Regions from separate parts of the Homo sapiens genome. Here all the other regions are reported to be linked to region 3. Evidence: microRNA targets listed by miRTarBase, many of them from high-throughput screens and not tested one by one. Region 3 holds a microRNA gene; each other region holds the end of a gene's coding sequence. Distances are from middle to middle.

Evidence for each region. Region 3 holds the annotated microRNA hsa-miR-6504-3p (CAUUACAGCACAGCCAUUCU, at 1,961-1,980, opposite strand). A microRNA usually pairs through its seed, bases 2 to 8, with sites in the 3' UTR of a target mRNA and lowers its output. Matches are read on the target gene's strand: a 7mer-m8 pairs with bases 2 to 8, a 7mer-A1 pairs with bases 2 to 7 and ends in A, and an 8mer does both.
Region 1: the mRNA of KCTD21 is a reported target of hsa-miR-6504-3p. Seed matches in the 3' UTR shown: 7mer-m8 at 2,436-2,442.
Region 2: miRTarBase lists IL6R as a target of hsa-miR-6504-3p. Seed matches in the 3' UTR shown: 7mer-m8 at 2,818-2,824.
Region 4: the mRNA of FHDC1 is a reported target of hsa-miR-6504-3p. Seed matches in the 3' UTR shown: 7mer-m8 at 858-864.
Region 5: the mRNA of CHST6 is a reported target of hsa-miR-6504-3p. Seed matches in the 3' UTR shown: 7mer-m8 at 2,957-2,963, 7mer-m8 at 2,823-2,829, 7mer-m8 at 2,060-2,066, 7mer-m8 at 1,924-1,930, 7mer-m8 at 1,009-1,015 and 7mer-m8 at 489-495.
Region 6: miRTarBase lists DNAAF10 as a target of hsa-miR-6504-3p. Seed matches in the 3' UTR shown: 7mer-m8 at 4,716-4,722, 7mer-m8 at 3,928-3,934 and 7mer-m8 at 3,794-3,800.

The regions. Positions count from the first base shown.
Region 1 is chr11:78,169,442-78,174,513 of GRCh38, forward strand. It overlaps KCTD21 (potassium channel tetramerization domain containing 21), which reads right to left. Exons shown (of 2, transcript NM_001029859.3): 2 at 1,808-5,072. The coding sequence ends at 4,331. KCTD21-AS1 (KCTD21 antisense RNA 1) reads left to right here. Exons shown (of 3, transcript NR_102281.1): 3 at 4,379-4,536. Among named protein-coding and RNA genes, the nearest start is that of KCTD21, 17 kb to the right of the region's middle. RefSeq lists an enhancer at 4,398-4,899.
Region 2 is chr1:154,464,824-154,469,894 of GRCh38, forward strand. IL6R (interleukin 6 receptor) reads left to right here. Exons shown (of 10, transcript NM_000565.4): 10 at 311-4,627. The coding sequence ends at 557. It also overlaps a transcript of SHE not described here. Among named protein-coding and RNA genes, the nearest start is that of TDRD10, 35 kb to the right of the region's middle. RefSeq lists an enhancer at 142-643.
Region 3 is chr16:81,608,295-81,613,366 of GRCh38, reverse strand. MIR6504 (microRNA 6504) reads right to left here and starts at 2,019; the gene lies at 1,959-2,019. All of the region lies in intron 2 of CMIP (c-Maf inducing protein), which reads right to left. RefSeq lists an enhancer at 4,576-4,805.
Region 4 is chr4:152,976,276-152,981,347 of GRCh38, forward strand. It overlaps FHDC1 (FH2 domain containing 1), which reads left to right. Exons shown (of 12, transcript NM_001371116.1): 12 at 1-3,396. The coding sequence ends at 448. Among named protein-coding and RNA genes, the nearest start is that of FHDC1, 42 kb to the left of the region's middle.
Region 5 is chr16:75,474,059-75,479,128 of GRCh38, forward strand. It overlaps CHST6 (carbohydrate sulfotransferase 6), which reads right to left. Exons shown (of 3, transcript NM_021615.5): 3 at 1-5,070. The coding sequence ends at 4,583. Among named protein-coding and RNA genes, the nearest start is that of TMEM170A, 12 kb to the left of the region's middle.
Region 6 is chr2:68,126,474-68,131,545 of GRCh38, forward strand. It overlaps DNAAF10 (dynein axonemal assembly factor 10), which reads right to left. Exons shown (of 8, transcript NM_138458.4): 8 at 3,332-4,972. The coding sequence ends at 4,765. Among named protein-coding and RNA genes, the nearest start is that of DNAAF10, 29 kb to the right of the region's middle.

The DNA of each region.
Region 1 (5,072 bases), not on the chromosome of region 3:
CTGCAATCTCTGCTTCCTAGGTTCAAGCAATTCTTGTACCTCAGCCTCCCGAGTAGCTGGGATTACAGGCACGCACCCCTATGCCTGGCTTATTTTTGTATTTTTAGTAGAGACAGGGTTTCACTATGTTCATCAGGCTGGTCTCGAACTCCTGACCTAAAGTGATCCGCCTACCCTGGCCTCCCAAAATGCTGGGATTACAGGTCTGAGCGACTACACCTAGCCTGATGACTATTTTGTTGTTGTTGTTGTTTGTTTTTTTGAGACGGAGTCTCACTCTGTTGCCAGGCTGAAGTGCAGTGGTGCAATCTGGGCTCACGGCAACCTCCGCCTCCCAGGTTCAAGCTATTCTCCTATCTCAGCCTCCCAAGTTGCTGGGACTACAGGCATGTGCCACCATGCCTAATTTTTGTATTTTTAGTAGAGACGGGGTTTCACCATGTTTGCTAGGATGGTCTTGATCTCTTGACCTCGTGATCCGCGCACCTCGGCCTCCCAAAGTCAGACTGTTTTAAGAGTAATTTGTAAAAGGAAGCTGGAAGTTTGGGGTGAATGGGTGGTTACACAAATGCTGTGTGATTTAGGGTGCAGTTTACAAAAGAGTGGCTGCGTCCTAGGCTGCAAATTCTGAGGTGTGGGCAAGTGGGGACCTTGGCCACCCCTGCACAGGGAGATCTGGCCCAAAGGCAGACCAGGGTCATGAGGCTAGGCCCTTCTTAAGAGGGTGGAGGGCTTTTGGAGGTGCTGAGGGCATGAGGTCAGAGTGGTGCCTGCTGCTGGCCTTCAAGCATGCAGGGTCCCTGTTTGGTGGTGGGCCTCATGAAGGAGTCACACCAAGGTGGGTGCTTAGGGTTCCCTCAAGCACCCATTCTGTCCCTCTGCATGCAGGGGACCACACCTAGGGCAGGAACTGAGAGCTGACGAGTGTTGTGTTCCCGGCGTTGCTCCTTCAGCTGGGATGGAGCCCTTGGCGGGATAAAAGGCTAAACTGGGTCCAGGTGAGATCACCACAAGGTCTCACCCAGGGCAATGAAGGGCTCACAAGCAGCACATCCCTGCTCACAGTTCGCACTCAGACTCACCCGTCTGTCGATGGTGCTGCCATCACTGCTGAACGTTTGTTCTCCGTCTTTCTCATGCTTTTGCCAAGCAGAAGGCTGAGTTCACCTAACCTGGACGCAGGCAACGAGATGCACTGCGTGCCCCCCTTCCCCTTGTGCAGCTGTGGTGTGAACGCATACCCTCCCTTGCTTGCCCTTCCTGCCTGGTTGCCAGCTCTGCTCTTGCTGTTCCCTGTGCCCACGGCACTCTCTTGCTTATTCTGTCAAGCCTGACCTACCCTCAGAGGCCCACCTTGGCCATCCACAAGGCTCCTTCTGAGAACTGAGCCCTTTCCCTGAGTTCCCAAAGCACGTTGTGTGAAGCTCTAAACTTTCTCCAGGCTGAACTTAGCTTACTCGTGGCTGTTCACATCCTCAGGGCCCACGCAGCAAATGCTCTGTAAGGGCTTGTTAAACTCCACTCTCCTGGGACTCCTAGTCCCCCACCAGAGTCCACCATGACTACCTCCTGCAAGAGCACTGAGCTCTTGGGTGCCAGGCCCAGCTCAGGATTTTCACAGACACCAACTCGTTTAAGTTGCATAACCCCGGGAGGAAGGGGTTGTTACCTGATGAGCAAACAAATCAGAGAAGTTCAATGACTTGTCCAAGGTTACAGAGGCTTGGAGCTCTGGATTCAAACCCAAGTCACTGTGACTCAAGACCAGTGTTTTTCCCCGTTACAAGCAGACACAAAAGAATAACAATCCTTTATCATTTATACTGTATTCTCACGTTACATTATTTCATTTGATCCTCACAACAGCCCTGTGAGGTAGGTAGGGTTATGTATTACTGTTATGCCTATTTCACAGATGAAGAAATGGAGGTGGCTCAGTGAGGTGAGTGACTTGCATAAAGTCACACAGCATGTTAGTGGCTTCACTGCTTCTGCAACTTCTCTAAAGTCAAGCTGCTTGGATTAGGGAGCACCGAAAAGATGGACAGTTTTATGGAAAAGGAGAAAGGGCAGTGGTGATTTGTAAGATTTCTTCCTCAAATTGTTTTGTTATGACCACAGCTTCTGCTACTTGGTCTAAACTAGGTTCTCCATGAGGGGCTCTCCCAAGTACCCTTGGCCTGGGACAGCTGTCTTTTTTTGGGATGGAGTCTCTCTGCAATGGCACACTCTCAGCTCACTGCAACCTCTGCTATCTGGGTTCAAGCGATTCTACTGCCTCAGCCTCCCAAATAGCTGGGGTTATAGGCGCCTGTCACCACACCCAGCTAATTTTTGTATTTTTAGCAGAGACGACGTTTCACCATGTTGGCCAGGCTGGTCTTGAACTCCTGACCTCAAGTGATCTTCCCGCCTCGGCCTCCCAGAGTGTTGGGATTACAGGCATGAGCCACTGTGCCTGGCAGAAAAGCTGTCAGAGAGACTCCTGGGTCCCACCGTAGGGGGAAAAGGGCCTTTACTGCTCAAGGGAACTGGCGCTGCCCATGGCCCAGTGTACAAGCTCCCTACTCACAGGGCCTATCTATGGGAAGCCCCTTTCTGGGCCCACCTCCCATGGGTGCCTGTGTCACCAGGCTTCCTTGGCTTTGAGGACCCCTGCCCAGTGGGGGAGGACCCTGGGGACTCTCAAGGCCAAACTCACTTTAGGGATGAATCATGACGTGCAGTTTGGAGGCCTGCATGGCTCATCACCCGGTGGGAAGCAGTGCTTGGGTTGCTTGCCCTGGATGGCACCCTACAGAGACCCAGGGGTGGGACACAGGACTGCAGGGGAAGGCCGCCTTCCTGAGGGCAGGGTCTTAGGGGCCGCACATTTACTCTAAGGGCACTGTTACGGTTCATACCACTCCTGGGCTCCTTGCTGCACAGCACCCTTGGAGACCGTCTCTTTCCTCTGGATCTCCTCAGGGGCCGTGAATCTTCCTCTTCCAGCAGAAAATGGTCGAAAGGTATATGGAGCCACAGATGGTGGGGAAGGTGGGTGAAGTGGGGGTCACAAACGAGGTGAAGCTACAACAAAAGGGGACTGACTTACAGGGGATAGAAAAGAGCTAACTTTGATTCTGAAGACAGATCCCAGAGGGGAATCTGAATTCTGAGTAATGATGTTTTCAGAAAAATGTCTGGTCTCTCAAGGTGACTATTTTGAAAGCAAAGATATATAACTGGGTGAATGGGAAGGTCTGCAACCAAGATCCAGCAAGTGGCAGGACAGATTTTGGCTCAATATAGGGAAGAACTGTCTAACAGTCAGCACTGTCCAACCACAGCAGGAGCTGCCTTGGGGATGGCGCGCTTCCTATCAGCCAAGGTATGCAAGCAGGCCAAGGTGATCACTTGCAGGTACCCAGGGAGAGGCGCTCATCTTCAGATGTGCTGGGGTGTTCTAGGGGTGGGGGAGGACTAAGCAATCATCGAATTATTTCCAACCCTGAGAATCCGTAATAGATTTGTTTAAAATGACCTGTTTCAATGATACCTCAAATTTTTGGGAAAACAATGACAAAAGTCAGGTAACAGGCTGGATTTGGAAGTGATTTCATTACACTGGCTACAGATACTTGCACATTTTTGCAAAGATAGCAGACCCTTTCTAAAGCCAGGAATCCCTTGATTCAGCCCTATCAAGAGGGACATTCCTACCTTCTGAACTCTGCCTGGACACTCATTCCTCTAGACCCTGCCACACCTCATCTCTGACCCCCAAGAGGGGACACTAACAGAGCTCTGAGAATGCACAGCATTCCAAGCCAGCCAAACATGGTCACCCCTGGGCAAACATCCACGATCATGGATGCACCCTGGGGAGGGAGGAGCAGGTGTGACAGGAACCGCTGGGGACTTTATGTCCTGGTTAACTGGAGGTAGCCTCTTGTTCTCATCCCATCCTCTCCACCAGGGCCTTCTTACAGATGGATAAATGCGGCACTGGCTAGCGGTACAGAGAGATGGAGCCCAGGAGAAAACTGCTGCTCTTTTGTCCTGGCTGGAAAATCCTCCTATGGCCTCCTTTAGTACACATCAGCTGACTCTTCACTTGTCATAATAAACCGCCTGTCTGCAGCTCAAAATGGCAAGAAAAAAGGTGGTTCTGTTCAGAGGACACTGGATTCCAAAAGGTGGACTTCATCATGGGGGGAATCAAGTCCTGCTACACAATTAATACAGATTAGTATAGTCCCCTGCCTCGCACCACTGGCGAGATGCCCTCCAAGACCTGGCTGACATGAGCTTCCTGGGACTCCCCATCTCCAGTGTTGTTGGGGTCCTTTTACCTGTACCGTATTAATCGAATAATCTTATTGTTCATAAAATCCAGAGCATGTGGGTGAGAAGAATCGATGCAGAAGCCATCGCTCAGAGCGATTTTCAGTACCTCTTCCACGAAGACCTGGAAGCTGTTGATCTGCTTGTTGGCGGGCACCACCCAGAGCCTCTTGAGGTTCTGCTTGGTGTACTCCTCCTCTGGCAGGCCCTCCACATTGGCCACCCAGTCCAGAGTCAGGTGGTTGGGGTCCTGCAAGTGGCTGGTGATGGAGGAGAGATTGCCATTGGAGCAGTAGAAGAGCTTAGAGCCAAGGAGCTTGAGGAAGAGGCAGGAGGTGCTGAAGATGTTGGCGTTGAAGACCTCCATGCTGGAAGAGGAGAGGCTGTAGATCTGGGGTGCCTCGCGCACAGTGAAGTGGACCGTCTGCACACGCTGGTTCAGTGTGATGTTGAGCATGGCATTCTTCTCGGCCTTGGAGAGCTCCACTTCCTTCTCCTGCAGGGCCTCAATCAGGGGCTGCACCTGGTAGAAGTCGGCCTCCCTGCGGAGCAGCCCCATCTCCTGGAAGTCCTCAGGCAGGTCAAGGTGGGAGGTCCGCAGGAAGTTGAGGATATAGCGGAACACTTTGCCGTCACGGTCAATGAAGCAGTTGCCCTGGCTGTCCCTCTTGGTGGGCATCTTCCCGCTGAACATGGCGCCTAGCATGGAGTCAGGGAAGCTGGTCAGGGTCGCCAGTGAGGTTGTA
Region 2 (5,071 bases), not on the chromosome of region 3:
TGGCACACACCTGTAGCCCCAGCTACTCAGGAGGCTGAGGTGGAAGAATCACCTGAGCCCAAGGAGGTTGAGGCTGCTGTGAGCTGAGATCACGCCATAGCACTCCAGCCTGGGTAACAGAGCAAGATCCTGTCTCAAAACAAACAAATGAACAAAAAACAAAAAGACAGCTGATAGTTATTGCTCCTTTGAGCCGAAACCTGGGCGCGCCAGGCCACCAGGGCAGCCAGCTGTTGGTGTTTTCCACTGTGGGCTTGTCACAGGGGGAGCTAAAAATCTGTGTGGTTTGTCTTTGTGTGTTTGTGTGAAGGTTCAAGAAGACGTGGAAGCTGCGGGCTCTGAAGGAAGGCAAGACAAGCATGCATCCGCCGTACTCTTTGGGGCAGCTGGTCCCGGAGAGGCCTCGACCCACCCCAGTGCTTGTTCCTCTCATCTCCCCACCGGTGTCCCCCAGCAGCCTGGGGTCTGACAATACCTCGAGCCACAACCGACCAGATGCCAGGGACCCACGGAGCCCTTATGACATCAGCAATACAGACTACTTCTTCCCCAGATAGCTGGCTGGGTGGCACCAGCAGCCTGGACCCTGTGGATGATAAAACACAAACGGGCTCAGCAAAAGATGCTTCTCACTGCCATGCCAGCTTATCTCAGGGGTGTGCGGCCTTTGGCTTCACGGAAGAGCCTTGCGGAAGGTTCTACGCCAGGGGAAAATCAGCCTGCTCCAGCTGTTCAGCTGGTTGAGGTTTCAAACCTCCCTTTCCAAATGCCCAGCTTAAAGGGGCTAGAGTGAACTTGGGCCACTGTGAAGAGAACCATATCAAGACTCTTTGGACACTCACACGGACACTCAAAAGCTGGGCAGGTTGGTGGGGGCCTCGGTGTGGAGAAGCGGCTGGCAGCCCACCCCTCAACACCTCTGCACAAGCTGCACCCTCAGGCAGGTGGGATGGATTTCCAGCCAAAGCCTCCTCCAGCCGCCATGCTCCTGGCCCACTGCATCGTTTCATCTTCCAACTCAAACTCTTAAAACCCAAGTGCCTTAGCAAATTCTGTTTTTCTAGGCCTGGGGACGGCTTTTACTTAAACCGCCAAGGCTGGGGGAAGAAGCTCTCTCCTCCCTTTCTTCCCTACAGTTGAAAAACAGCTGAGGGTGAGTGGGTGAATAATACAGTATCTCAGGGCCTGGTCGTTTTCAACAGAATTATAATTAGTTCCTCATTAGCATTTTGCTAAATGTGAATGATGATCCTAGGCATTTGCTGAATACAGAGGCAACTGCATTGGCTTTGGGTTGCAGGACCTCAGGTGAGAAGCAGAGGAAGGAGAGGAGAGGGGCACAGGGTCTCTACCATCCCCTGTAGAGTGGGAGCTGAGTGGGGGATCACAGCCTCTGAAAACCAATGTTCTCTCTTCTCCACCTCCCACAAAGGAGAGCTAGCAGCAGGGAGGGCTTCTGCCATTTCTGAGATCAAAACGGTTTTACTGCAGCTTTGTTTGTTGTCAGCTGAACCTGGGTAACTAGGGAAGATAATATTAAGGAAGACAATGTGAAAAGAAAAATGAGCCTGGCAAGAATGTGTTTAAACTTGGTTTTTAAAAAACTGCTGACTGTTTTCTCTTGAGAGGGTGGAATATCCAATATTCGCTGTGTCAGCATAGAAGTAACTTACTTAGGTGTGGGGGAAGCACCATAACTTTGTTTAGCCCAAAACCAAGTCAAGTGAAAAAGGAGGAAGAGAAAAAATATTTTCCTGCCAGGCATGGTGGCCCACGCACTTCGGGAGGTCGAGGCAGGAGGATCACTTGAGTCCAGAAGTTTGAGATCAGCCTGGGCAATGTGATAAAACCCCATCTCTACAAAAAGCATAAAAATTAGCCAAGTGTGGTAGAGTGTGCCTGAAGTCCCAGATACTTGGGGGGCTGAGGTGGGAGGATCTCTTGAGCCTGGGAGGTCAAGGCTGCAGTGAGCCGAGATTGCACCACTGCACTCCAGCCTGGGTGACAGAGCAAGTGAGACCCTGTCTCAAAAAAAGAAAAAGAAAAAGAAAAAATATTTTCCCTATTAGAGAAGAGATTGTGGTTTCATTCTGTATTTTGTTTTTGTCTTAAAAAGTGGAAAAATAGCCTGCCTCTTCTCTACTCTAGGGAAAAACCAGCGTGTGACTACTCCCCCAGGTGGTTATGGAGAGGGTGTCCGGTCCCTGTCCCAGTGCCGAGAAGGAAGCCTCCCACGACTGCCCGGCAGGGTCCTAGAAATTCCCCACCCTGAAAGCCCTGAGCTTTCTGCTATCAAAGAGGTTTTAAAAAAATCCCATTTAAAAAAAATCCCTTACCTCGGTGCCTTCCTCTTTTTATTTAGTTCCTTGAGTTGATTCAGCTCTGCAAGAATTGAAGCAGGACTAAATGTCTAGTTGTAACACCATGATTAACCACTTCAGCTGACTTTTCTGTCCGAGCTTTGAAAATTCAGTGGTGTTAGTGGTTACCCAGTTAGCTCTCAAGTTATCAGGGTATTCCAGAGTGGGGATATGATTTAAATCAGCCGTGTAACCATGGACCCAATATTTACCAGACCACAAAACTTTTCTAATACTCTACCCTCTTAGAAAAACCACCACCATCACCAGACAGGTGCGAAAGGATGAAAGTGACCATGTTTTGTTTACGGTTTTCCAGGTTTAAGCTGTTACTGTCTTCAGTAAGCCGTGATTTTCATTGCTGGGCTTGTCTGTAGATTTTAGACCCTATTGCTGCTTGAGGCAACTCATCTTAGGTTGGCAAAAAGGCAGGATGGCCGGGCGCGGTGGCTCACGCCTGTAATCCTAGCACTTTGGGAGGCCAAGGTGGGAGGATTGCTTGAGCTCAGGAGTTTGAGACCAACCTGGGTAACATAGTGAGACACCATCTCTATTATGAACAATAACAGTTAAGAAAAAAAAAGGCAGGCAGGCGGTTATGGTGGTTCCCTCCCATCCCACCACATAAAGTTTCTGAGACTTGAGAACAGCAAAATGCTGTTAAAGGGAAATATTAAGAATGAGAATCTGCAGTAAGGGTGATTCTGTGCCCACAGTTCTTCAATTCTTTATACCGTTTTACCCACATGTGGTGTTACCAAAGCCGGGCAGAACCATGCTAGCGGAAGATGTGAAATCCAGATAGCTCATTATTGCCAAGAGCTAGGCAGCTTTGATCTCCAAATTGTTATTGCTTTCATTTTTATTGTAATGGAATTGCTTTGTTTTGTTTTTTTGTTTTTGTATTGAAGAGGGTTGTTTTCCCTTTATTTTTCATAAGCTAATGTAAATGAAGAAAAAATGTCTTCTCTGGGCTGTAGGCCTGGCTCAGCGTACACAGGTATACATCCTAAGCTCTCTATGTTCTCTAATCTGTGGTGACTGAACATGTGTCTCAATGCACGGGGCATTTCTACCTGTGTTTCTGCAGCACCCCCACTGCCTTGAGTCCCCAGCAGTGCTGTTATTTGCCTAACACCTGTAGCCATCTGCCACGCAGCCAGACGTGAAACGCTGAGACAGAGACCATTTAGGTTAAATACGACAGCTTATCCTGCTGGGTGGGGAAAGTAAAAAATATGCTGGTTCAAGGCCTAAAGTAAAATGATCAATAATGTTTGTAGCATTAATGAAATATTTTCAAGAAATGTGTCCAGGGGTAGCACTGGCTATGTTGACGAGGCCTTTGGTAACTCAGAGAGCTCTTGGCCCTGATGGGGACTTGCCCTTACGCTTTCTTTATCAGGCTCTGAGTTCACACGGAGCCTCTGGCACTTCCCTGCTGTCTTGGGAGAAAGGAAACTGGTTGCCGCGGCAGGTTGTGGAATCTGTTGCTGGAACCAGGCTGGAAGCCCACCTGGTAGTGAACAGGGCCCAGTGGGGCAGGCTGGGCATGTTGTGGTCTATGGGTTTGTTTCCTGGAGAATGTTCAGGAATGTCTTCCCAGCTGCTTTGGTGCTGAGCTCTATTATCTCACAGCACGTCCAGAAGGCTAACCCAGGTGGGGAGGATGCTGACACCAGCTCCAGGTGGAGTTGGTGGTCTTAATTTGGAGATGCAGGGGCAACCTGTGACCCTTTGAGGCAAGAGCCCTGCACCCAGCTGTCCCGTGCAGCCGTGGGCAGGGGCTGCACACGGAGGGGCAGGCGGGCCAGTTCAGGGTCCGTGCCAGGCCCTCCTCAGTGCCCTGTGAAGGCCTCCTGTCCTCCGTGCGGCTGGGCACCAGCACCAGGGAGTTTCTATGGCAACCTTAGTGATTATTAAGGAACACTGTCAGTTTTATGAACATATGCTCAAATGAAATTCTACTTTAGGAGGAAAGGATTGGAACAGCATGTCACAAGGCTGTTAATTAACAGAGAGACCTTATTGGATGGAGATCACATCTGTTAAATAGAATACCTCAACTCTACGTTGTTTTCTTGGAGATAAATAATAGTTTCAAGTTTTTGTTTGTTTGTTTTACCTAATTACCTGAAAGCAAATACCAAAGGCTGATGTCTGTATATGGGGCAAAGGGTCAGTATATTTTTCAGTGTTTTTTTTTCTACCAGCTATTTTGCATTTAAAGTGAACATTGTGTTTGGAATAAATACTCTTAAAAAATACCCTTGAAATGTAATTATTGCTTTGGGCATCTGGGTCATCTAAAAAAAAAAGGCTTGCCTGATTCATGAGGAGAAAGGAGTGAGGAAGGGGGGATAATTAAGTAGAACCATTTTTGGGGGGGTATCCCCTTAATGCAGGATTAAAGGACCGCTCAAAAGTAGGTAAGTTCAAGGAAGAAGCAGCAATTTCTCAGAAGGCTTTAATTATGACAGTATTTCCCACACGAGTCCTGGGATTTCTGGAAGGGGTGTGTGGGATTTTGCCACGCTTACATCACATTACCAGGTGGTGGACAGGTGGGGAAGGAAAAGGAAGGGCCATTATTTGTCAGAAGACTGTTTATTGGACCTGGGAGGGGGTGTAACACTATCACAAAGGCCACCCTGAACTCTTGATCATCAGATAGACCAAATCCATCCCCTACTGAAAAGGATCTTAGGTAG
Region 3 (5,072 bases):
CCCTGCAATCCAGCCCTGGAACATGAAGCAATGCATCTGAGCTCCTCTGGATTCCCAGGACTTGGGTTGGGACATCCGTGAGCATTATTTCTCCATGGTAGCTGCCCTACTGATGAAGCAGGAGGAGGAAGGATGTGGCACGCAGGAGACCTCACCTTGAAACTAAGGGAAGCGCCAGAACTTGCCTCTAGGAGAGCAGGTGGAGGCTGATGGAGCCAAAAAGGTTGGGACAAGGCCGGACTGTAAACTGCTCGTTCCTTTGGCTTGTCTACTTTTGAAGGAGGACATACGCTGCTAGGCAATGTCTTGAGTCCCAGCACAGGCATCTCTAAGGGGCTTCCAAGCAAAGGGAAAGCTGACCAGGCTGCGTTCCAGCTGGGGGAAGGGTCACGCTTCTGTGCAGAGTCCCCATACTGTCCTGCTGGTGGCTGAGCCAAGAGAACTCAGCCCAGTGGGAACATAAGGCATGGCTGGAACCCCGAGGGTCACTCTGAGGAGAATCCATTCAGACCTGGGAAAGGTCCCCCAGCCCAACCCTGAGGGTCACTCAGAGGAGAATCCATTCAGACATGGGAGAGGTCCCCAGCCAGACCCCAAGTCCCCCGGAAGCCTGCGGGCAGCTGGTTCCAGGCTTCCGACTTCTGGTGTTAAATCTTTGGAATGCTGAAAGGGCCTGGTTCCAGGCAAACGCTGCCCAATTTCCTCTCCCAAACTTGCCAAGTTCTTTCTCATTGTTGCATTGTCTTGAGAGGTGAGAAAAACAGCCCAGGGTGCGCTGTGAGCGACCTTTTCCAAGCTCCCCTTCCCCGGCCCAGTTTCTTAGGGAAAAGGAGCTTCCTTTCTTACTGGAAGCTAGAGAGTGAGACCTTTCTGGTGCTTTCCAGACCGGAAAAGTCCTGCTTGCTACCTTCCAGTAAGAAAGGAACCCACCCCGTCCCTGCCCTGCTGCCAATGTTTGGGGTAAACAGTTGCCCCGCCTCCTGCAGGACTTTCCAGAACATTGGTGAGAAGAGCCGAGTCCCGGAACCCATCCCCGAAAGAAGCAGACACTCTTGGGAGGAGGGTCTCCCTGCTCTTATCTTGCCTGAAGCCTTGTTTGTGGAGCAGCGGCTCTGTCTAATTTTTGCTGATGGGCAGCCACTCAATTTTTAGGCAGAATCCCCCAGAAGATGATCTGCGCCGCGCTGCTCTTTAATGCCTGCTACCCCATCCCAGGGGCCAGTGACAGCACCTTCAGGACGTTTTCATGACACTGTCTATGTACTTACATGCTTGGCCTCCCCACAATGAAATGCTAGCAGAAAGGGCATCAATGGAGGAAATGGGATAAACAGGCCCTTTCTGCAACGAGGGATTCTAATAACATGGCAGTGAGGGAGCTCACGCTGAAAACACAAAGCATCCAAAACACACCAACTGGACCCACGCTGGAAGGCTGGGCGCCTCTGTCTGCCAACTCAACCTGCTGGTAGATTGCTCTGTCTCTGAGCTGGGGATGAGGGGCATGGGCCTGAATGTCCTCTCTGCCTTCCTTGAAGGATCAGGTCAGCTCCCCGAGGTCTGCAAGAGGCATTGATTCAAATTCTAACAAAGTAAGAGTTTTACAAAGAGCTCCTTAGAAGACAGAGAGAGCGGAGGAGGAGGAAGAGAAGAGGGGAGAGACACACAGAGAGGACTGGGGGACAGGCTCAGAGGTGGTGAGAGGCCTGGAGGAAGGACCTGCAAGAGAAGCCCAGAGTGAGCCACAGCAAGGACTAAAGAGAGAGAAAGAGGAGAGGCAGGAGGGGACAGAAGGGGAAGGAGGGGAGAGAGATGGAGAAAAGGCATGAGAGAGAGGAAAACAGACACACATGGATGCAAAGAACCTGAAAGAGACAGAGATGGAGAGAGATCAGGCAGGCTGGGGTAGGGAAGGGGCACTAGCCCTCTTTGGGCCCCGCCATTCCCCTTGTCTGTAGAGAGAATGGCTGTGCTGTAATGCAGCAGGGTGCAGACTGCATTACAGCACAGCCAGACTGCAAGATCGAAGAGCCCCCTGTGATCTGACGTGATTCGCCCCAGGAGGGGCTCAGGTGCCTGCAGTATGAGGTCAAAATGAAAAGGCCTCGAGGTCAGCACTGCTCCACAGAACTTCGTGTGTCAATGGAAATGTTCTTTATGTGCGCTGTCCAACACAGCAGCCTTTGGCCATGTGTGGCCCCTGGCCACTGGAGGTGTAGCTAACGGGACTGAGGAACTGTGTTATTAATTTGATGAGTAAATTAAATCCATCTGTGGGCTGCCATGCGTGGCTGCTGGTGGCTGTGCCGGGCGGCACCATTTAAGGCACTTTCACTCATCTGCTGACTAGGAGCACTAAGGTAATGCCGTTCAGATGGGCACCTGGCTGTTTCTTGGTCCCCTCTCCCACCCTGGAGCAGGGAAGATCTGTCCCCAGGGCCAAAGGGGTTGTTCTCTGTGACACCACGGCTCTGGGATCTAATACAGTATGTTGTATGTGAATCAAGACAAAGTACAGCCTCTCAAAGCAGAGGGTCCTGCCACCCGTCACAAAAGGCACGTGAATACAACCAGGACTGAAGAAAGCCCTGAGTACCACACCAGGGGCCAAGTGCACCCCGCCCCAGCCTCCCTAGAACCACACAGACTCGCTAGCCCTGTTTATAGAATGAGCCAGCTACATACCACCCATGCATCACGGTGGGCAGAGTGTGGGGGTGAGGATGAGAGGGAAGCAAGGGAGAAGCCGATCCAGGTCTACCTCCCCTGACGGAAATGGCAGCCAGGGAGAGAACCACAGCCGCCAGGGGCAGGGGCTGCACCCACCTGGGTTCCCCTTGGGGGAAGGGTTGGGAGGCCGTGTCTGCTGCTCCCTCATTAGCTCGGAGTCCGGCTCTGGATCTGAGGAGTTGCAAGCCGCCTCCTCCTCCTCCTTTTCCTCTGCTTCCTCCTCTCCTGCTCCTGCCTCTGACTGCGCTGTCCACGGGATCAGGGGGCAGTGAGCAAGTGGGATGCTGGAGCAGCTAGAGGCTCCCCGCCCGCTCGGCTCCTCAGCACCACGGCGGCAGCTCTGTCCTGAAGCCCTGCCAGACACGGCGGCCAGGCGAGTCATCACAGCTGGGCCCGCGGCCACAGCCGGGTTAAAGGGACATTCCAGGCACTGCTTCTCTGCTTTTCAGCCTCACTGCCCCTCCATCCCTGTGGCGAGTGATGCTCTGGCCTCCTTTGGAGGCCAGGGCTGCCCCTCCAGCCCCAGAAGGAATGAGGCCCCTTTGCTGGTGGAGCAGGAAAGTGGAGGCTCAGGGCCTCCTCTCCTCCAACTGGAATGTTTCAAGGGGCTCCCTCCTGCCTCTCTGTCATGCACAGATCTAGGCCCCTCTGCCCTGCCACCACACTGATTCCTCTAGTGTCCCTCTACCCCTTCAGAGCTTTCAGTGGCTGCCTATTGCCTTTGGAAGAGGGTCTGAGGCTTCTTCACTTGGCTGGCAAGGCCTGGGTGATCTGGCCATCGCCCAACAGATCTAGACATATCCACAGCCCCAAACTCCATCTCTCCATCTCCTCCAGCTGCAGCAAGTACCCAGGTCCCCCATATTCAGGCTTTGCACACACATCCCCTCTGCCCGGGGAGTGTGCCCCCACCCCACCATTCTGGCACACTTCTACTCATCCCTCTACACCCAGTTCAAATGCCCCCTGTCTGGGGAGCCTGCTTTGGCCCCCCAGGCCAAATAAGTTCCTCCTTCTCTGGGCTCCCAGTCCTCCACGGTTGCCTCTAATTTAGCCATTATTTCCGTAATCATTTGTTTATGGCTCTGTCTCCCCAGGGGCTGAGGGGCTCTTCACGCATGGGGCCTCCCCGAGCACAGGGGAGAGGCTGCCTCAAAGCTCTGTGACTACAGCAAAGTCATTGGGGTAGGACAATCTCTGGCTACCCTACCTCTCCGTTGGCCACTGAACCCTGTGATTGCCCGCCCCATCTCCCCCGCCGAGGGGGGCTGGCACTGACCACCCCCTTCATGGACTCTGTGCTGCAGCCATCGGATGGGCAAGAAGGAGCGAGTGAAGAGGCAGAGGAGCTGGCAGAAGTGTCTGGCAGGAGGGTGACACTGACCTCTATCATAAAGATGAGAGGAGAGAAAGAAAGAAGAGGAAGGCTTTGCTGGCTGTGGTGGGGAGGGGGGGAGGGACAGTGTGGGGGTGTGGGGACAGGGTTAAAAGAAAAGCGTAGAGGGCAGAGTGTGAGAGATTCACTAAGAAGAAAGCAGACTGGGGCAGGCGTGGTTTCCAGAGTCCTCTGAGAGATGACAGTAAGAAACAGGACATTTCTAACAATGCTAAGTTGTTACGCTCCGCTACTGAGCTCAGCATTCCTTGGAGCCCAGACTGGGTGACTCTCAGCCCAATGCTGTTACACAATCCAGTGGCTGCTAGATCTAAAATAGGTTTTTAGAAAGCATCTCTTTGGGCTAAGAGAAGGTTTCCCTGGAAAAACAAGTTAGGAATAAAATGATCCCAAAAGAAAAAGCAAGGCAGGTCTTCTTCCCACTGATAAGAGAGTAAATTTTCTCTAGATGAGGGGTTTCAGACTCGGGGTTCCTTCTGAAAATTGGCTGGCTCCCCTGACATGATGTAACATGTCTTATGTATGTGTGACCGTGGTCGTGGTTTTTGTCAGTCACTTCTCCATTCTTGGTGGACGCACCTCACCGCCTCTGTGTGGTCCTGGTGGGGCTACCAATCCGAGACCTGGGCCTTGCCTGAGGTCAAGGGTGGGCGGGTAATCCGGGGGAGTGAATTCCTGGGGGCTGAATGGGAACACGGCAGAGCCAATCAGGATCTTCCATGAGATTTTGTAAAAGGTACTGGAAAGAAAAAGGGCGCTCACTCTTAAGGATTACAGCCTCTAAGGATGTGGCTTTGGGCTGCAGGTGGGTCATCTTTCCTACCACATGGTGAGATTCTGCCAATGAAGCCAGCACACAGAAGCACAGCCAGGAGATGGAGAGAGAGATGCCCAATATTAATGATGTCATCTGACCCCCGGATCCAGCAATGCCTGAAGTCCCCTC
Region 4 (5,072 bases), not on the chromosome of region 3:
GAAGCCTGAGGAAAATAAGACCTGCCGCGCCCACTCCGAGGGCCCTGAGAGTCCCAAAGAAGAGCCCAAGACCCCGTCAGTGCCCAGCGTCCCCCACGAACTACCCCGTGTCCCGAGCTTTGCCCGGAACACAGTGGCCTCCTCCTCTCGAAGCATGAGAACAGATCTTCCTCCCGTGGCCAAAGCCCCCGGCATCACTCGGACAGTGTCGCAGCGGCAGCTGAGGGTGAAAGGGGACCCCGAGGATGCCGCTCCCAAGGACAGCAGCACTTTGAGGCGAGCCAGCAGTGCCCGGGCCCCCAAGAAGCGCCCAGAGTCTGCGGAGGGTCCCAGTGCCAACACGGAGGCCCCTCTGAAGGCCAGAGGGGCTGGGGAAAGGGCCTCCCTCCGTCGGAAGGACTCCAGTCGGACCACGCTGGGGAGAATCCTCAATCCCTTACGGAAGTGATGGGTGCCTGTCCTCTCCTGCCTCCTGGGATTCAGACGGTGAAGACTGACTTCTGGGACGAGGATGGGGAAAGAGGCAGCATGTCTTTGTTACAGATAAAGCAGCCACTGGTGCCACTGCTAGTGACGCTGTTGGGATGGCACAGTCCAGGAGGCCTGTGGACTGCAGCCTGCTGTGCTGAGCCCTGCTGCAGTCCAGCGTCCAGATGGATGCACGTTCACTACTGTGACGGCCGCACCTCCCCCATGCACCCCACCCTCCCCCAAAGCCCGGATCCCGAGAAAGATTTAGTAGGAGTGTAAAGTGACATTCTTATGAAACAAGTCAAAAAAGTTTTTTTCAGGCCAGTTTTTATATATCAAAGACTTTCTTTTTAATATAAAAATTAGCTAGGTGCAGTGGTTCATGCCTGTAATCCAGCACTTTGGGAGGCTAAGATGAGTGGATTGCTTGAGCCTAGGAGTTCGAGACCAGCCTAGGCAACATGGAGAAACCCCGTCTCTATCAGAAATACAAAATTTAGCCGAGTGTGGTGGCACATGCCTGTGGCCCCAGCCACTCTGAACGCTGAGATGGGAAGGTCACTTGAGCCCAGGACCCCACCACTGCACTCCAGCCTGGATGACAGAGTGAGACCTTGTCTCAAACAAAACAAAACAAAAATGAAATGTTCTAGTTTTGGTTCCTTTTGCAGAGTGAAATGCCTCCCAGGAAAAAAATACATATGTATTTTTTTGCGACAGGGTCGTGCTCTTGTCTCCCAGACTGGACTGCAGTGGCACAATCATAGCTCACTGCAGCTTTGACCTCCCAGACCCAAGTGATCCTCCCACCTCAGCCTCCCTCAGAGCTGGGACTACAGGCGTGCACCACCACGCCTGGTTAATTGTTTTTTTTTAATTTATCTTTTGTAGAGATGGGATCTCACTATGTTGCTCAGGCTGATCTCGAGCTCCTGGGCTCAAGTGATCCTCCCACCTCAGCCTCCCAAAGTGCTGGGATTACAGGTGTGAGCCACCACACTTGGCCAGTATATCCTCAGTATGAAGATATTTTTATCTTCCTGTGTTCTCTGGCTTCAGAGTTTCACCTGCCCACACAGGGTCCGTTGCTGGCAACTGGACTTCCCCATAAGCCTTGGGTATCCTGTGATGGGCTGTGTCTCCCTGAAGATTGTCTGGCTTGCCCACTTCTCCGTGCATGACTCTGGGTGTGAGTCTGTCTAGGAACAGGAGGGAAAGTTGGACTCAGACAGAAATCAGATGCTTCCATGTATTCAGGGCGCGCATTGTGAGCAGTGGAGTATGAGCCTTGAGGGCCTCATGGTTGCAGGGCAGGCTTCCCTGCAGATGGGTGGCAGCCCCTGGTAGAATGCTGGATTTCTCTGGAATCTAGAAGTGCCATATTTTAGTGGAAAGGCATCAGGGCTGTTTGACAGTGTGCGTCTTTCCAATCCCATGTTCCTCCATTCGTGTGTCTGTTATAAAACTGAGTGAAGGCTGCTATGACCTGTGTTCACTCTGGTTACAGGGAGGTGCAAACCATTCTGTCTCCCAGCCTTTCTTCTCTCTTTGTGTGCTCCCAGCACTTCCTTCTTTTCTAACATGGCCTGGAGAGAGTCTCTCTCTCCTTGTCTCTGTCTCTTAATAATAGTTTTTAACGTGGACATCTCTTCCTTGGTACAGTGGTTTTTAAATACTGAGAAGAACCAAGTCAGGTTTTTTAAAGCAGACTAAAAGCATGAAATTGCTTTCAGAAGAATGTATATCATCGGGAAAAGTTCGGGGGCAGAGTGGGGGAATCAGGCTTTATTCAAAAGAAACAGTTGAAAACATGGGACTTTTTCTACCCAATGCCCATTTCACGACTCCTCTGAGACTAATTGGGAAACGGGGAAATTCTTGGAATTTTTTTTTTAAGAAACTTTTTTGTGTTTTTTTTAATTTTAGGTCACTTATTAGTGAAACCTCATTTTAGATCTGACATTGGTAGATAGATGGATTTAGGCAAATATGATGCGTTTGTGGGGAATCCACGTGGTTGACGTTAGAACCTCCCTTCTGCAGACTGTTGCCTGTCATCTAAGCGAATTGGAAATGCTGAGCTTCCATAAGTCAGCTGAGTTTTAAAGGTAAACGTTATGGCTGAAATAGTAAAGCACCTGACCACAAAACCTCTTGTAAAAACAGCCCTGAGTAGGTATTTCCAGGGCTCCACAAAGTTGCTTATGGGAATCCTGAGCTGCTTTTCACCATCTCAAGAAGCCTAAGAAGTTATATATTTAATCAGGTAGACAAAACAGTTCAAAGCATAAGGTCCATGGTGGTGGAAAATGGATGCAAGTGATTCTAAGTTTGTGGATTTGTGGATAGCAGAGGGATCGGGACCTCTTGGAGGAACCCTGGGTACCAAGCTCCCAGGCCCTTCCTCTATCATGGATGCTGGGTGACTTTGGGAAGTCACCACCTCTTCCCAAGCCTGTTTCCCATATCACAGATGTGGGGCCATGGCCTCGATGATGGTCTCCACAGGTCTTTCCACCTCTGTGAGTCCAAGTCAGGTCAATCAGCAAGGACCCATCTCTGCCCTGGGTCAGCTCCTCAGAACCAACCCCCAGCATCTCTAAAGCAAAAGCCTCACCTCAAGGGCTGCTCAGAAGAGAGCACCTTCAGCATGAGTTGTTGCTGGAAGATCTAATAAGCTGTGTTTCCTGGGAAGTGGTGCTTTACTTAGCCCTGTGGACAACTTCTCTATGCATCTGTGTGAGCAGATGATCATTGTATTACCTTTTATCGGTAGTAAGCTTGGAAAAATAATTTAAGAATACAATGGAGAAATGTAAATAAGTATCTATGTAAATTTGTTTAAAATAAACTGAATGTATTTAATGGTCCATTTATATGTTCTTTTATGTAACATGTAGTTTAATAAAGTTCCTGTTTATGAGAGTCATGTTTCATCTCAGCTTCTTCCATGGATGTGTCTGTGTGATCTTGCTGGGAGAGTATTCAATTTCCTGCCCAGAGAGAAGCAGAGATCCAGGAGGCTAGGGAGGGTTGGGATACAGCTGACTTGTCCTCCAAAGGCTCAAGAGCCTAAATGAGGCTGTTGGCTGTGTGTCTTCTTGATAGCACAGAACCTGCTCATAATTGAGGGCTTAGGGAGTGGGCCTTGCCCCAGGCCGTGGGGATGTAACCCCGCCTCTGACACGCAGGCTGTCGATGAAGTGCGCAGCTCACGTTATTCCATGCTGAGCTGAGTTTTTTGTCATCTCCGTGGGCCTGGCAAGTCTAAATGGTGTCCTGGGTGTCCTGCATTTTGGTTCAGGACACCATTAGGAAATCACAACTCACCTCATGGCTGACTCAGGAATGAGCAGAGAGGAGGGAGAGATGGCTTGATATGACCGGCATTGTGCATATTTGAAAAGGAGTGGCGATTGTGCCTCAGATACACCTCATACCTCGGATTATGTCATGTTTCAGTCCTAGCTACTTGCCTGCTTTATCTGAAGTGGGCTAGAGGAACATCCCTGGGTCAGAATCAGCAGATGAGAGTAAATTATGTTCTTGTTGGGAGTTGCTGCTTGCTCCCTGAACATGTGGAAGTTGGTCTTGTCTGTGTTATAAGCAGTTTGGGACACCAGACTCCTCCCTAAACCTTCAGTCCTGCTGCTCAAGGGATTACTGACATGTACTGCCCCCGTCCCCCCACCAAGAAAGCTTTTTATTTTTCTAATGGGTCTCAAGTAATCTTCCATTTCTCCTTCCCTTTTATTTTATGGCTTTCATAAAGAATCTGTGGCTTCATCCTCCTAAAGAAATTCATTAAATTAAAGGGGCCACCATCTCCTAATTGTTCATTCAAGACTGCATATTTATGTGTTAGGGTGAGGGACCCCAGAAGACTTTGGAAGAACTATTAATCCACCTTCGGGGGTGTGTACATTTGTGAATTTCTGCCTCTAAGGGTGCAGTATCCTTTCCCTAGCTCCCCCCGTATGGCAATGATGACATTTTGCAATTTTACAGAATTTTCCATTGAAACTTAAACTTAATTCATCATTATATTTTTGCTGCATGCTCCAACCCTGTCAGAAAAATAGAAGAGAGAATTTTTTTGGTGCGTGTCCCCAAACACATATAATCATCAAATGTATAAACCAAATTTGAATAAAGGACATTGCATCTGATCACTCATTAAGTGCTGCTTAAAATTATTTGGGCTGTGAGCACAAACAAACTGGGGCACCGGGGTCTCTGCAAAATCACCCTGCTCAGCATCTGTGGGGAAAGAATGCATAGCTCAGGCCGAATCTGCGGCAGGGTGGAAAACACAACCCAGAGCACCCGCTCCTCAGGGCTTTTCGTCCACTAATATCTCCCGGTTTGGATGTCCCACAGCTCACTGGATCTCCTAAGTGAAGACAAGAGTAACGTGGTAGTTGAAGAAAACGGCTTTTCTGTCTGCTGGGCCAGAGCTCTGCAATGGGGCTTTTGGCTTCCTGATTGGTAGGTAGGACAATTGGACTGGCCGCAAGCAGCATTCATAGTTGTTCATTCACAGACCCTTTACCAAGGGCCCACCAGAAGCCTGACATCCCTGACTATGAGCTGTGGAGGGA
Region 5 (5,070 bases), 6.1 Mb from region 3:
CAGCTACTCGGGAGGCTGAGGCAGGAGAATCGCTTGAAACTGGGAGGCGGAGGTTGCAGTGAGCCAAGATGGCGCCACTGCACTCCAGCCTGGGGGACAAGAGCAAGACTCTGCCTCAAAAAAACAGAAACAAAAACATTGTTTTTCTTTGTGAATCTGTCTTTTCATTAAAAAGTCTCTCTTAATCTGTTTTGTTTTGCTATAACAATACCACAGATGGGGTCATTTATTTAGAGATAGGTGTCTTGCTCTGTCACTCAGGCTGGAGTGCACTGGCATGATCATGGTTCAATGTAGCCTCAACCTCCCAGGGTCAAGCAGTCCTCCCAACTCAGCCTCCCAAGTAGCTAGGACTACAGGTGCACGACACCATGCCCTGCTAATTTTTTTTTAACTTTGTAGAGATGGGGTCTCACTATGTTGCCCAGGCTGGTCTTGAGTGCCTGGTCTCAAGTGATCCTCCTGCCTCAGCCTTGCAAAGTATTGGGATTACAGGCGTGAGCCACTGAACCCAGCAAGGGTCATATATAATAAATAGAAGTGTATTGGCTTACAGTTCTGGAGGCTGGGAAGCCCAAGATCAAGGAGCCAGCATCTAGCGAGAGCCTTCTTGCTGTGTCCTAGCATGATGGAAGGCATCATATGGCAGAAGGGCAAAGTGAGGGCGAGAGAAAGACAAAGAATGAACTCCTTCATTTAAAAGGCACCACTCTCAGGATAACCAACTCACTCCTGAAATAATGGTGGTTTTTTTTAAGACAGACTCTCGCTTTGTTGCCCAGGCTGGAGTACAGTGGTGCGATCTCAGCTCACTGCAATCTCTGCCTCCTGGGTTCAAGCGATTCTCCTGTCTCAGCCTCCCAAGTAGCTGGCCTTACAGGCATGTGCCACCACACCTGGCTAATTTTTGTATTTTAACTAGAAATGGTGTTTTACCTTGTTGGCCAGGCTGGTCTCAAACTCCTGACCTCAAGTAATCCGCACACCTCAACCTCCCAAAATGCTGGGATTACAGACATGAGCTACCATGCCTGCGCCCAGAAATAATGTTCTCTACCCATTCACAAGGGCATAACCCGCACGGCGTAATTTACTTTCCATCAAGCCTCACCTCACAACACTGGGGATCAAGGTTCCAACTTTGGGAGACACAATCAAATCACAGCAGAGCCCCAGCTGAAAACCTAAGACAGGTGGAGGTAAAGTTTTGCTTCCAAGGCCTATGCTTCAAACTGGCTCACAGGAAGTTGCACTACACTTGTCTACAGGACAAAGCAAGTCACAGGACCAGCCTGGATTCAGAGGTGGAGAAACAGACTCTACTTCTTGATGGCAGGAGCCATGGTCACACAGCACAGAGTGTCAACACAGCAAACCACTAACAGTGGTCAATGCAGTCACCCCCACAGCAACCCAGAGCTCTGTGCCCTGTCACAGCATTGGGCAGTCCCCAGTGATTAAACCTTCCTGTTGGGACTGCACTCTCACAGAGATATAAGACATACGTGATCAGCACAAGTATGTACCTACCCAGCCCTGGCTTTACTGTGCCTAGTCAGCCAGGCCACTTTCTTTGTCCTGAAAGCTGACCTGGGTTCACTGTGAGGCTTGACTGTACTGCCCATGCGCAGAGAGCAAATTCAGGAGCCAGTCAAGCATGTCCTGACACCTTGGGAGTCAGGGGAGAATGGATGGGTCATACAACAAAGGACTTGGATACCAAGAGGCCATTAATTGCAGCCATCAATAAAATTTGTGACCTAAACAGGGGCAAATGAAGCTTGTTGGGCATGCTGGCTGGGCATGAGATGGAGTCTTGCTCTGTCATCCAGGCTGGAGTGCAGTGGCATTATCTCGGCTCACTGCACTGTCCGCCTCCTGGATTCAAGGGATTCTCCTGCCTCAGCCTCCTGAGTAGCTGGAATTACAGGTGTGCACCACCACACCCGGCTAATTTTTTTTATTTTTAGTAGAGATGGGGTTTCACCATGTTGGCCAGGCTGGTCTCAAACTCCTGACCTCAAGTGATCCACCTGCCTCAGCCTTCCAAAATGCTGGGATTACAGGCATGAGCCACCACGCCTGGCTTGTGGTTGAAATCTTAACCCACAATATGATGGTGTTGGGATGTGGAGCCTTTGGGAGGTGATTAGATAATGAAGGTGGAGACCTCAAGAATGGGATTAGTGACATTCTTTAAAAGGCCCTGGAGACTGGGTACAGTGGCTCATGCCTGTAATCTCAGCACTTTGGGAGGCTGAGGTGGGCAGATCACTTGAGGTCAGGAGTTTGAGACCAACCTGGCCAATATGGTGAAACCCAGTGTCTACAAAAATACAAAAATTAGCTGGGCATGGTGGTGCATCCCTGTAGTCCCAGCTCCTCAGGAGGCTGAGGCAGGAGAATTGCTTGAACTCAGGAGGCAGAGAGAGGCAGAGGTTGCAGTGAGCCGAGATTGTGCCACTGCACTCCAGCCTGGGCGACAGAGCCAGACTCCATCTCAAAAAAAAAAAAAAAAAAAAAAAAATGGCCCTGGAGAGCTGTCTCCCATCTTCTACGATAAGAGGACACAGCTAGAAGGCACTGTCTTTGAAAAAGTGGGCCCTCATCAGACAGCACTGGTGGCTTGATCTTGGACTTCCCAGTCTCCAGACTTGTGAGAAGAACATTTGTTTATAAGTTACCCAGTCTTTTTTTTTTTTTTGAGATGGAGTCTTGCTCTGTCACCCAGGCTGGAGTGCAATGGCGTGATCTTGGCTCACTGCAACCTCCGCCTCCTGGGTTCAAGCGATTCTCCTGCCTCAGCTTCCCGAGGAGCTGGGATTACAGGTATGTGCGACCATGCCTCGCTAATTTTGTATTTTTAGTAGAGGAGGGGCTTCGCCATGTTGGCCAGGCTGTTCTTGAATGCCTGACCTCAGGTGATTCATCCCCCTCGGCCTCCCACAGTGCTGGGATTACAGGCATGAGCCACTGCATCCAGCCAAGTTACCCACTCTTAAGGTATTTTGTTATAACCACCTGAACAAGAACAAAGACATTCTCTAAGCCATGTAGTACACATTCATAAATCTGGGGTTTTAAATACCTTCCTCCTATAATTGTCACGAGGGACAGATTCAAGTTTCATTTGGTTGAAGCTTCTAAACCTGGAAGGAACCTAAAATGAGCTTCAGCTTCAAGGCTAATGTGCCTGTTCTCCCTCCACGTAAAGCAGAAAATGCCAGATCTCCCTTGCCCTGCTTGCTTTGCAGGGAGGATGTGACTCCACAATCCAGGTTCCCCCAATCTGTGGCCACACCCAGGATGAGGATCAGAAGCTAGTGACCACCAGCATCGCTCCTGGTAGCTGATGGCAACGTGAGGGAAACTGCCTCATTTCACAGGTAACAGGGTCAGAAGTTCTGTTGGCAGCCAACACAGTTCCCAGACCAGCTCTGTGTTCCAATGTGACTTGGGTTCATTTATGTGGCTAACTCAACTTCCCTGTCCTTTCCAGAGGTTCCATGAGCTCTTCTTTTAAACATGTACTGGGCACTTATAGGCTCTCATTTCCTGAGCTCGGGACTAAACCCTCTACACATCCAGCATTCCTTTACTAAGCCCCTTTGCCCCCAGAGCTAGGAGGTGTGGCTCACAGGCAGGGATCATCCTCTGCTTTCCTCCAAGGCCTGGACCAGAAGGACCAAGGGAAGACAGTTCCAGCCCAGAGCCATTTCCCTTCCAACCTCTTGGCAAGCCTGATGAGTTCCACTCCCCGCTGACGGGCACACCTGCCTTCCAGGCACTGATCCTGCTTTCCCCCTCTTGCTCTGCCACTCACTGTGCCTGGCTTGCTGCCCAGCCCTCCCCAGCCTTCTCTCCTCCTACCTTTCCCACTTATTGCCTCCTTCCAGGCTTGTCCAGCATGATAAACTCTGGTCTCAGCATTCACAGCCTCCTCTATCTCTCAGCTGTGTCCCTGGTCATGACTCTGCTTGCTCTTCCCTAAAGCAATTAAAATAGGAAAATCTGACCCTTCTCACCCAGGAGGCAGGTCCTCTCCTATCCACTGGAGACCCAGAGCAAAAGCTCTCTCCTCCCTTCATCCTCCTTCTCACCATGTGATTTCAGACAAGTCCTTTCACTTCCGAGTTTTGCCATGTGTGCCTGTGTGCATATGTATGTGATGTACAGACCTCTGGAGCCATTTCACCACAGTGCCTCTCCACTCCCAGCCAGTGCCAGGGCACCCCCTCAGCTGCTGCAGGATGTGTCACCAGAAGGAGAGAGTTAAAGGGGAAGAAAGCCCTTGAGTAGGAGCCAAGTCATCTGAACGCACACCCTGTGCCCAGAGGAGGAGGGGCAAGAGTTGCTTTCCATGAAGAGTGCACCTGATGAGAAGGCAGCTCCAGAGGACTCAAAGGAAAACCAAGAATCAAGAGAGAAAGAAACGTGCAGTCCTTGCCTACTTGGGGAGGGGGAGGGGTCGTACCACAAACTCCTTGGTCAATATAGGGACCTGCTTCTCCGTGCGCCCCAGCCCCCTCTGCACCATGCACTCTCCTCCCGGGCCTAGCGCCTGCTACAACTGTGGCCTCCACTAATTTCGGGGGTGCGAGGCGGTGGATGATGCCCAAGTGAAGCCGTTCAGGCCTCGTGGCAGCACCAGATCAAGGGCGAGGTTGCGCTGCTCGTCCTCAGAGTACACAGGCCGGTAGCCCAGCAGCTGCAGCGCACCAGCGCACAGTTCCTGCACGCGGCGGATCTTGGCAAAGGGCAGCGCATGGCGCCAGGCCTGGGAGACGTTGAGCGCATTCCTGGACGAAGTCTTGAAGGCTTCGCGGCGCGCACCAGGTCCAGATCCGTGGGTGATGTTATGGATCCAGGCCTCGAGCTGTGGCGTGAGACTGAGCCCAGTGAAGGCGTAGAGCGCACGGATTTCTGCCAGCGGCTCCCGCGCCAGGTCCTCGAAGCGCACCAGGCGGTAGCGGCCGCGCAGAAAGGGTGGCGGCTTGAGTGTGGCGGCCTCGGCGATGCGTACGTGGCTACGGCACACCTCGCGCACCACGCGCAGGCCGGGGTCGGCCT
Region 6 (5,072 bases), not on the chromosome of region 3:
TAAGGGTTCATCCCTCACTACATATGAATGATGCGCCATTTTGGTTTTTGCATCAGTTTGGTTTACATGGTCTAGTGCTGGAGAGCCTCATCATTTCTTGGCATACTGAAACACAAAGCCACGGATTAGGAGAGAGGAGAGTCCAATGACTCCTGGTCCAGGAGGCTACCTGTTTTTCACAGGGCATCATTCTCTAGATTCAGGAGAGTAAACCCATTTTATCTCACTTGCCAGCAGTTGGTAGTGGCTCCTAGCAGAGTGTGATAAAGCTTCTGAGGCTCAGGAAGAATGAGTGGCATGATTGATTAGTCATGTCTGCAATAAATTAGGGGAAGGGAAGGGTGTACGTAGATGGGATAGGAGTATCTGCATTTGAAGCAATGTATTTCATCAATTCAAATGAGCACATCCTTCTGCCCATTTATGCATCTTTGAAATTAGGATGCATCTTATAATCACTACACCAGATTGTCTTTTCCAAAACTAGCCACAGTATTTCAAGTCTCACATGCTTTTTTTTTTTTTTTTTTTTTTTTTTTTCTGTTTTTTGAGATGGGGGTCTCACTCTGTCGCACAGGCTGGAGTCCAGTGGCACAATCTCAGCTCACTGCACACTCCGCCTCCCAGGTTCAAGCAATTCTCCCACCTCAGCCTCCCAAGTAACTGGGATTACAGGGGTGTATGACCACGCCCGGATAATTTTTGTATTTTTAGTAGAGACAGGGTTTCACCATGTTGGCCAGGCTGGTCTCAAACTCCTGACCTCAGGTGATCCACCTGCCTTGGCCTCCCAAAGTGCTGGGATTACAGGCGTGAGCCACCACGCCCAGCTCACATGCTCTTTCAGAACCTAGCCAAGACCCCATCAAAAAGTAGAATTTACTTCATCTCCACAGGGAATTTTAAACATTTAGCTGGGTGTGGCAGCATACACCTGTAGTCCTAGCTATTCTGGTAGCTGAGGTGGGAGGATTCTTTAAGCCCAGGAGGTTGAGGCTGCAGTGAGCAATGATGGTGCCACTGCACTCCAGCCTGGGCAACAGAGCAACAGAGTAAGACCTTGTCTCACACACACACACACACAAAGAAAAAGGAAGTAGAATGTATGTACTCTGCCCTTGCACTTGGGATAGGAGGTTGTGATTGCCTCAACTAATAGTGTGGCAAAGTGATTGCTAAGTAAATTATGAAGATAGGTCATTAAAAAAACAAGATAGCTTCTGCCTGGTCTTCTCTTGGGATGCTCACCCTTGGAACCTGGCCACCATGCTCAGGAACCCTATGCCATGTGGCGAGCTCAGCCCTTGCTTCTCAGATCTGGTTGAGGTCCCAGCTAACAGCCAGCACCAACTTGCAAGCAATATGAGTGAGTGCCATCTTGGAAGCAGGTCCACCAGCCTTTAGTAGAGCTGCCTGCCTCATGCTATATGGAGCATAGATGAGCCTTCCTTGCTGAACCCTGCCCAAATCATAGACTCCTAAGCAAAATAAATGATAGTTAGTGTTTAAGATATGAAGGTCTGCAGTGGTTTGTTATACAGCAATAGGGAACTGAAATAATCGTGGTCAGCCAGGCTGCAGTCTTGACAGTTGTCACTGCCTGCATGTATGTATACACAAAAACATGTTGAAGAAGTGTCAGTGAATTGAAAGAAAACCCTGAAGGCAATAGTGGAACATGTTTTAAAGAAATGCTACATCACAAACACTTTTATGCACAAAGGACAATATTATAAGGAAAACCATGAACACTGATGGCTCTGAATTCAAAAAGTGATTTAGAAGAATTAAACTCTGAATATGAAGGAATCTAAGGAATAGCATACCAAATTTATTTTGTATAAATTTTTCTTTAATTTTTTTATTTCCATAAGTTTGGGGGGAACAGGTGGTATTTGGTTACATGAGTAGGTTCTTTAGTGGTGATCTGTGAGATTTTGGTGCGCCCATCACCCGAGCAGTAAACACTGAACCTGATTTGTAGTCTTTGATCCCTCACACCCTTCCCATCTTTCCCCGAGTCCCCAAAGCCCAGTGTGTCATTCTCATGCCTCTGCATCCTCATAGCTTAGCTCCCACTTATGAGAACATACAATGTTTGGTTTTCCATTCCTGAGTTACCTTACCTAGAATAATAGTCTCCTGTTTATGTGGTTCTTTTTAAGGATGCACACAAGTGATACACAATGGAAAAAAAACTATGTGTAAATAAAATTAAAAGAACACTCAATTAATATAAAGCAAATAGTGATAAAAAGAAAGGATTTTATCACAGTTTCATCATACCAGCCTAGCATCAGTGATATCAATGACATCTTAGATTTAATGAAATACAGGTGTTTATTGTTGTTGATTCTATTATATTACCAAATACAAGTGTCCTAGGAGAGATTTCCACAAATTTTCCATTTTTTTCTTTGCAAATTAAAAAAAAGTAGATATAAACTTTTTTAAAAGTTCAATTTAATTTTTACTTTCATAATTATATCCCATTGTTCTATAAAACATTGGGGCTGGGTGCGGTGACTCACGTCTGTAATCCCAACACTTTGGGAGGCTGAGGCGGGCGGATCACCTGAGGTCAGGAGTTCAAGACCAACCTGGCCAACATGGTGAAACCCTATCTCTACTAAAAATACAAAAATTAGCAGGACATGGTAGTGCATGCCTGTAATCCCAGCTACTCGGGAGACTGAGGCAGAAGCATTGCTTGAACCCGGGAGGCAGAGGTTGCAGGTGAGCCGAGATCATGACACTGCACTCCCGCCTGGGTGACAGAACAAGAAAAAAAAAAAATTTGCCTCAAAAAAAAAAAAAAAAAAAATTTGGAAACAACAACAAAAAAAAAGCTTAATTTTCTCAACGTAATATTCCAAATAAGTGACTCTCCATGATCACCTGAAATCACATAAATTTTGCATATTATGAATGTTTTAGTTGGCTCCGTTTTCTTGAATGGCATAGCATCAGTGATATTGATGACATCTTAGATTTAATAAAATACAGGTATTTATTGTTGTTGACTCTATTACCAAATACAAGTGTTCTAAGAGAGACTTCTAAAAATTTTCTAAACTAAAAAAAAAAAAACCTTAATTTTCTTAACTTAATATTCCAAATAAGTGACTCTCCATGATCCCCTGAAATCACATATACTTTACATATTGTGAATGTTTTAGGTGGCTGCGTTCTCTTCAATGGAGGTGGGGGAGGGTAGGCTTAATGAAAATGTGGTAAAGTCAATAATTCCAAAAGGCTTAGCTAAAGATATGTTGAACATTAAAGAAACAAAGTGAATTAAAACTACTAATTAAGCATTTATAAAGCAAAATGATGTGACAATGTTAACTTTATTACTACTGTTAAGGTAACAGAATCAAAGCTTCTGTAGATCTCAAAAACAGAAGTTTATTCATAAAATGCATTTTTAAAGTATGACCAAAAATAAGACTACAAAACCCCTACAATCTTGTACATTTCACCATCACTTACCACAGTCAAAAACCAAAAGTCTCACCAATTCAGTTCCTGTATTTTAAGTAAAAAAGAGCTCTTTAAAATCAAAGCATTTTGTTTTATGAATTAAATTGCAGAAAATAGCTACCCAAATCTAGACCAACCGTGCCGTTTTGAGAGAGAGAGATATATATATATATATTTGTTTTTTTTTTTTTTGAGACGGAGTCTCACTCTGTCGCCAGGGCTGGAGTGCAGTGGCGCAATCTCAGCTCACTGCAATCTCCACCTCCTGGGTTCAAGTGATTCTCCTGCCTCAGCCTCCCAAGTAGCTGTGATTACAGGCGCCCGCCACTAAGCCCAGCTAATTTTTTGTATTTTTAGTAGAGACGGGTTTTGACCATGTTGGCCAGGCTGGTCTCGAATTCCTGACCTCGTGATTCACCCGCCTCAGCCTCCCAAAGTGCTGGAATTACAGGCGTGAGCTACCACGCCTGGCCCACCATTTTGATATTTTATACAATAATATTATGTCCAGAAAATTACTCACACTGAAATCTCTCAAAATGTATTTATGAAGGTTAATTCAGTTTTTCCAAGGCAAACTCTTTTAAACCAAATGAAATGATTCCCACCACAACATTATAGACACTAAAACATAACACAAGCATAAAGATAAAATATGGAACTTCAGGGACACAGAACAAATCTGAAATATGTTTAATTATAGACAACTATTGACTTAGAAATGGAAGGGAGAGAAAAGAACTGGCCCTGGAGATAGTTTACTTGGTGCTTCTGATACCCACGTGCAGCAGCAAGTCAGCAAACAAGCCCCGAGAGAGGCTGGAGGCTGGCCCAGAGGCTTGTGGCTGGGGTCTTTTATCATCAGCCAAATCCAGCTTTGTTCAATGAGGGTCAGAGGACTCCAGAACCTATCTTAAATTGTGTGAGTGTTCCTCTGGAAGGTTTCAAGTCCAAAGTCTTTTTTTTTTTTTTTTTTTTTGAGACAGTCTTGCTCAGTTGCCCAGGCTGGAGTGCAGTGGCACAATCTCGGCTCACTGCAACCTCCGCCTCCCGGGTTCACGCCATTCTCCTGCCTCAGCCTCCCAAGTAGCTAGGACTACAGATGCCCGCCATGACACCCAGCAAATTTTTTTTTATATTTTTAGTAGAGACGGGGTTTCACCATGTTAGCCAGGATGGTCTCGATCTCCTGACCTTCTGATCCACCCGCCTCGGCCTCCCAAAGTGCTGGGATTACAGGAGTGAGCCACCGTGCCCAGCCTCAAGTCCAAAGTCTTGAAGTCAAATTTTATTGAGCTTTGTAACGATCAGTACTCTCACCGTTTGGTCAAATGAACTACAGACGCAGAGACCCCTTTTATCTGGACTCCAATCCAAACTTGAAATGGGCTGGGTGGACAACGTAACATTCTGCAGAAGGCTTACAGAACCTGCGACTCCCATTTCTATTCCCTCAGAATCTTTCTTTGACCGCTGAATAGGGTATTCACTGAAAACAAGATCAAAATGGTAAGAGCGCATAAATCTTAGCTTTCACCATTTTATTTTTATACATACACTTCAATGACTCTATTTCTCAGTTGGTTACT